Linked DNA regions of Homo sapiens. The protein of the gene in region 2 purifies or fractionates together with the protein of the main gene of each other region. This does not show direct contact. Each region holds a gene or a part of one and is shown on either strand. Other genes may lie near its edges.

The links.
Region 1: the proteins of INCENP (region 2) and GPALPP1 purify together in Homo sapiens (co-immunoprecipitation; one large-scale study listed by IntAct). This does not show direct contact.

Annotation. Positions count from the first base shown.
Region 1 is NC_000013.11:45,016,784-45,020,610, reverse strand, and holds part of GPALPP1 (GPALPP motifs-containing protein 1), read right to left. Parts: intron 282-3,827; coding exon 183-281; intron 1-182.
Region 2 is NC_000011.10:62,150,528-62,153,684, reverse strand, and holds the end of INCENP (inner centromere protein), read right to left. Parts: intron 1,924-3,157; coding exon 1,709-1,923; 3' UTR 516-1,708; downstream 1-515. UniProt on the Homo sapiens protein: Component of the chromosomal passenger complex (CPC), a complex that acts as a key regulator of mitosis.

The DNA.
Region 1 (3,827 bases), on a different chromosome or scaffold from region 2:
TCCTCCCAACTCAGTTGGCTAATTTAAAAAAATTGTTTTTAGAAACAAGGTCTTGCTATGTTGCCCAAGCTGGCCTTGAACTCTTCGTCTCAAGTGATCCTCCTGCCTCAGCCTCCCAAGTAGCTGGGATTATAGGCAAGAGCCATCACACCTGGCTCTATATATCTTATTTTCTTACTTACATTGTATGAAGATACCTGCTCAGCCAGTCTCTTATCTCTTCCTGATAATATATGTTCTTCATCTTTCTTACTGGATGACTTCCTTGCTTCTTGTGTTTCCTGAGGAATGAACACAGATAACACATTACTGAATCATAAGATTAAGATAAAACAAAAAATAAATATTATTTTTACTTAGATTAAGTAACAAGAGACACAACTAAGCCAGGTTTGTGAAATCCCTTCTGATCAGAAATATTAACATACTTTGCCGGGCATAGTGACTCACGCCTGTAATCCTAGCACTTTGGGAGGCCAAGGCGGGTGAATCACCTGAGGTGACGAGTTCGAGACCAGCCTGGGCAACATGGTGAAACCTCATCTCTACTAAAAATATAAAAGCTGGGCATGGTGGCGGGTGCCTGTAATCCCAGCTACTGGGGAGGCTAAGGCAGGAGAATCGCTTGAATCTGGGAGGCAGAGGTTGCAGTGAGCCGAAATCGTTCCACTGCACCCCAGCCTGGGAGACAGAGTGAGACTCGGTCTCAAAAAAAAAAAAAAAAAAAAAAATCAAAATATTAACATACTTGATAAGAGATCAGTTACTGCTCTAGTCTGTGATTTTCTTGAAAACAAGGAAAAAAAAACCCACTCCACTCAATCAACCTATTTATTGAACTCAGGATGAGTTTGACTTAACAGTGGTGAGATGTAGAAGTGAAAATAAGGCTTAAAAAGATATCCTACATTACTGTTTTCAAAAATAATAAAATCACCCTGGAGGGGGAAAAAAAAACAAAGAAAAGGAAATAAAAGGTGTACATTTTGAGAAAAAAAAAAAAAAAGAAAAATTGTGTTTATTCACAGATCCTAGCACTGTGTAGCAAACTGTGAACTGCGTAGCAAACTCCAAAGAATTTACTAAAAAAACTCCTGGAACTACTAAGCAAGTATAGCAAAGTTGCAGGATACAAGATCAATATACAAAATATAGCAGCAAGAGGCCGGGCGTGGTAGCTCACGCCTGCAATCCTAGCACTTTGGGAGGCAGAGGCAGGCAGATTGCCTGAGCTCAGGAGTTCGAGACCACCCTGGGCAACATGGTGAAACCCTGTCTCTACTAAAATACAAAAAATTAGCTGGGCGTGGTGGCGAGTGTCTGTGGTCCCAGCTATTCAGGAGGCTGAGGCACAAGAATTGCTTGAACCTGGAAGGCAAAGGTTGCATTGAACTGAGATGGTGCCACTGCACTCCAGCCTGGGCAACAGAGCAAGCTTCTGTCTCAAAAAATATATATATACATATATATAAATATATACATAGAAATATATATACATATAAATATATATAAATATATATACATATATTTATATGTATATATTTATATGTATATATTTATATTTATATATTTCTATGTATATATTTATATGTGTATATATATTTATATGTATATATATTTATATGTATATATATTTATATGTATATATATTTATATGTATATATATTTATATGTATATATTTATACATTTATATGTATATATTTATATGTATATATATTTATATATATCAGCAAGAAACAACTGGAATTTGAAACAAAACTATCATTTATATTAGCACACACACATGAAGTGCCTAGTCTAACACATTTTAATTCAAAAAAATGTTACAGGAATATTCTAGAGCATATGCTCCCAAATTGGAATGGGGAAGGCCCATATAAAAACTACTGAAAACCACTGGTCTCTAAGCATATTCTTATATTGTTTTTATTTGCTTAGGAGGCCTCATGGACTAAAACAACACTGTATTTAATAAAGTAAGTTAAAAACATAGAAATAGCTCATTTCTACATTTTCCCAGAAAATAGATGTTTTACTTATAAAAAAAGAAAAGTGATGTTATGGTACAATGGAGATAAAAACCTAACCATTTAATATTAAGAGGTAGTAGATATCGTCAAGACTGGAAAGTGAGGACTTAACTGATCTCATTCAATTAATGTATGTAAAACATTTTCATTACTTTCTAAAGAGCAATCTTTTTTTTTTTTTTTTAGACAGAGTCTCGCTCTGTTACCCAGGCTGGAGTGCAGTGGCACAATCTCGGCTCACTGCAAGCTCTGCCTCCTGGGTTCACGCCATTCTCCTGTCTCAGCCTCCCGAGTAGCTGCGACTACAGGCGCCCGCCACCACGCCTGGCTAATTTTTTGTATTTTTAGTAGAGACAGGGTTTCACCATGTTAGCCAGGATGGTCTTGATCTCCTGACCTTGTGATCCGCCCACCTCAGCCTCCCAAAGTGTTAGGATTACAGGCGTGAGCCACCACGCCCAGACAACAGCAATCTTCTTTTAGGCCATATTGGCTAAATTAATGTGAGAACAGTAGAGGTATGAGAGGTATGCTGGAAAATCAAATATAAGAAGTAGGATGGAATGGAGGGAACCTATCAAGAAGGAAATATGGCTAAGATCTGTTATAAAAATTAGTCATGAACTTTACACGGGATCAAAGACAACAGAAAATGAATAGCTCTGTGATACTATATAGTTTGTGACATAAATATATGTCTGTGGTACTATATTCTGTAATGTAGTATTATATAAAATTTAAGACTTATTAATCCCTTTATGAGTCCACTGCAAATACTAAACAAAACATTTCAGCACAGAAAAGAATGACCAGGTCTAAAGAACTCAGTCATAGGGATTAAAATCTCTTAAGTTCAAACAATATAGCCTGGTTTCCATATGTTCCATTATTCCATGATATTTTCCTCCAAGGAAGACTCCCTACATATCTGGCTGTAAGCTAGACATCTATTCATCTCCAATGAGAAACAGGATATAAAAAAGAACAAATAAATATGGACACAAATAAAAAGGCATGTAAGCAAGGGAATTAATTGTCTTTTTGGAGACAATCTTAAAGGCCAAATTATAAAAACTCCAATAAATAATTATTATTTCAAAACCAGCTAAGAAATAATAGGCATTCCAACACCACCCTTTCAAGGTTTTTGTGGCTCTCTTGGATCCACATCCTTTGCTGCCTCTCCTGCCCCTATATGTGTTGGTTCACCTCACCTTCCTATTATAACTCTCAGATTCTCTTTAATCTTAGGACAAAAAAGAAATTATGTATAATGTTGCCCAATATGCAGGCAGAGTGCTCAAGTGTGGAGACTGAAACATGCCCTCCACACTTTAAGGGTACCACTGTTTATTTCACAGGCAATTATCCACTAAAATGGAAAGTCCTTAAGGAGCTCTTGACTCTTTCTATCACCTGAAACCAAATACAATTCCTGACAAAACAGGAAAATTGATCATTACAGATTGAAAACAGAAATCCTGACAATTCTAGGTACTGATGAGTAATACAAACAGAGCTAGTGGAATGAACTAAGTGTGGAACTGCTTTAGTCAGAACTGATGAATTTATAATCATAAGGTGACAATTAGTCAAGCATTTGAGAATTGAATGGGATGTCTTACAGAAATTAAAACCTTTAGAGAGAGGCTGCGCACAGCGGCTCACGCCTGTAATCCCAGCACTTTGGGAGGATTGCTTGAGCCCAGGAGTTTGAGACTAGCCTGAACAACATAGCAAGGCCTTGTCTTTACAAAAATAAAAAATAAAAAAAATTAGTTGTGTGCCTGTAGTCT
Region 2 (3,157 bases):
AACACATATCTGACAACATATTTGTATCCATAATATGTAGATTCTTAAACCCAATGGTAATATAACAATCCAATTTTAAGATGAACAAAAGATTTGAAGACTCTTCACCAAAGACATACAGATGACAGAAATGCACATGAAAAGATGTTCACCATCAGCCATTAGGGAAATTCAAATTAAAGCCATGATTAGATATCAGTACACACCTATCAGAATGGCTAAAATAAGAAACAGACAATACCAAGTGCTGATAAATATGCAGACCAATTGGAATTACCTTTCTGCTGAATAACAACTTTTTCTTAAACACACTATGTAAAGATGCTTTAAGTGATATTTTGATATTGTGCTTTTAGACAGACACACTCGCCAATTGACTCAGTACAAGTGTCTAGTCAGAGAATATAGGGAAAAAAATTTGAATTGCACAACATATGTGAACAAAACATAAAATGCTTTTCTTGGCATGGGTAGAAACTTCCAGACTTCCGTCTATTGTGTTCACTATTTCCTCATTTTTAAAAGTGTTCTTGGATTTAGGCTTTATTTTGTCCTTAAGCAGAACTTCTGAAAAAGTTCAAATAGTAAACATATTCAGCTTTGCATGGAGGGGCCTCTGCTGCACAACTTAACACTGCCCTCGGAGCAGAGCAACTGGAGACAACAATGGAAATGGGCATTTCCATTGCTTGTGTTTCGATAAAACTTTAAAGAACCGACTGTGGCTGGATTTGGCCCACAGGCCATAGTTTGACAACCCGGGGCTACAGTAGCAGATATATGCATTCAGAAGGCAGCAGTAGGCAGCTCACAGGCAGGACCACAGCCAGCTTTCATTGGTTCTAAGCATTTAATTAGCAGCTGCCTGGTTTTGCTGGGGAAATATCTCGCTGCTTGCAAGCACTGGTCCCAAGGTGGTCTCAAGGGATACCCCTTTTCTACTCAGACCTCATGCTTCACCAGCACATAGATGCTCTCAAGTCCATTTGCACCTGAGCAGCACGGGTGGAGCCTGGGGAATGGAGAGGGTAGGGGACTAAGTGGCAGGGCCGTGTCAAGACCCAGGTCTTTCCCAATGAACAAACTCCCCTTTACAAACAGGGAGCACCCCAAAAAATAGGAAGGAGCTCCACCTGCCCCATCGTGACAGTAACTGACGTGTTCCTCAAGGGTTATCCAGGCAGTGGAACCACTCACTGCAGCAGCATCTCCGAGGGTGGGGGCCTGCACCTGGTGATCCTGAGGCACACCGCAGGTGATGGAACAGTACCTTCGTCCTGCAGGCCACTGGTGGCCCAAGACACACAGCTACAGGGCTGGGACTGAGGCGCCCAGTCTTCATGGTATCAACAGCAGGCTTGAAGGAATATACTTTATTAATCTACCTCCCAAACGCTAAAATGCCAAAGACTAAAATGCTAACATTCAGCTAAATTAAAACAACTATTTACAGAGCACTGTCTGCAGGCCATGTGGGGCTGGGCCCATTTCTTCCCCACCCACCCACCCAGCCCATCCTCCAAACAGGCCTGGGGCCACCTGCCACCTGCAGCAGAAACACCCAGCACAGAGGACGTTTATATACACCTGGCCAAGCCCTCCACAATGGCATGCCAAGAAGGAGGGCAACAGACCAAGACAGAGACCGACAGACAGACAGATAGACATGGACAGGAGGCGAGGCTGCCAAGAAGGCCGCAGGCCAGCCTCAGTGCTTCTTCAGGCTGTAGGCCAGGCTGCTGGGGACCCTGGCGCCCTGCAGGGGCGGTGAGTTCCAGACAGCAGAGCTGGTGCGCTTGTGATAGCGGGGCTTGCTCTTCTTGAAGATATCCTCCAAGTCCAGTGGGAGAATGGTTCCAAAGAGCTCCAGAAGGTTCGGTGGGTGGTAGTACTGGTGAATGATAGCCTGGCTGAGCGGGGTGCCTGCAGGAGACCACAGACCAGACACTGCCTTGGGGCTCTCCATGAACCTCCCCATCCCTTGCCCACCACAGAGCCCTGTCACCCTCTCCAACCTCCCTACAGAGAGCTCTGTCACCCTCTTCAGCCCTGCCCCTGCCTGTACCACCATCAAACCCAGAGAACGCCCTTGTGTCACATCCTTCCAACCTTCCTCTGGCAGCTTAACCTTACAAAGTCCTTGAGAGCTCGCATGAGCCAGGCACTCCTTGAACCTGTCCCGACCACCACCTGGGAGGCAGGTTCTGTATTCTCCCATTCAGCAGATTTGCCCAAAGGCATACAGCTAATAATGGCAGAGCCTGTGTTTGAAGACAAGCCCAGTTCCAGAGCTTAAGCATAGGATGCCATCCTTGACCACCTTGGCCAGCTGCTTCTCACAGACCCCACAGGCCCTGGTGCAGTGCTGAGGGGGCCTCTGGGCAGTGGATGTGGGAAGGCACAGTCCTGACAACGGGGCTGAGGAAGACCCAGGGGATCAGGAGGCCAGACATGCACCAGCACTTGCTCAGCACCAGGTGCGGCTCTAAGGGCCAGCCGTGAGCTCACTCATGTCACTCTCAACAGAACTCCTCAGCTGGGTCTTGTCTTCACCCCCCTTTCACGGATGAGGAAACTATTTAAGTAAGCTGTTCAAAGTCACCTCCGATTAGATGGCTTTGCAAGCGAGCTGGCTCCTGCTCACTGCCATCTCCCAAATGACTTGACACTAGTAGTTAAGAGGCTTAAAGCACATGCCAGTTACTGTAGGGTTCAGATGAGGTGAAACTCACAAAAACAAGTTTCTGTAGTGTGCCTACCAGCTATGGGATTCCAGGCCCTTCCCTCTGGGGCGTCTGCACCCCTCCCTGACTTCCGGCTCAGCAACCACTGCAAGGCACCCATGGTACCCACGGGCCCCATCCACTCTGGCAGCACCCACTTCTAGCACCTACCCTGCTCACTCAAGCTGGCCTTGCACTCAGGCCTGAGACATTGCAGTCACGCTCACCCACATTCTGGTTTAATGCTGGGGCCTGTAAACTCCAGGTCAGATCCTGCTCAAGTGCCTCATGCACTCCTCAAGGACTTTCCTGCCTCCCCGAGCTGGCTGGAAGCCCCAGGCTCCAGCTTGGTGTTCTGCCTAAACCCTTCCCCATTCTAGCTCTGCCTCTGCCCCAGGTGGCTTACTTAGGTCCAAGTCTCTTCAGCCCTGCTG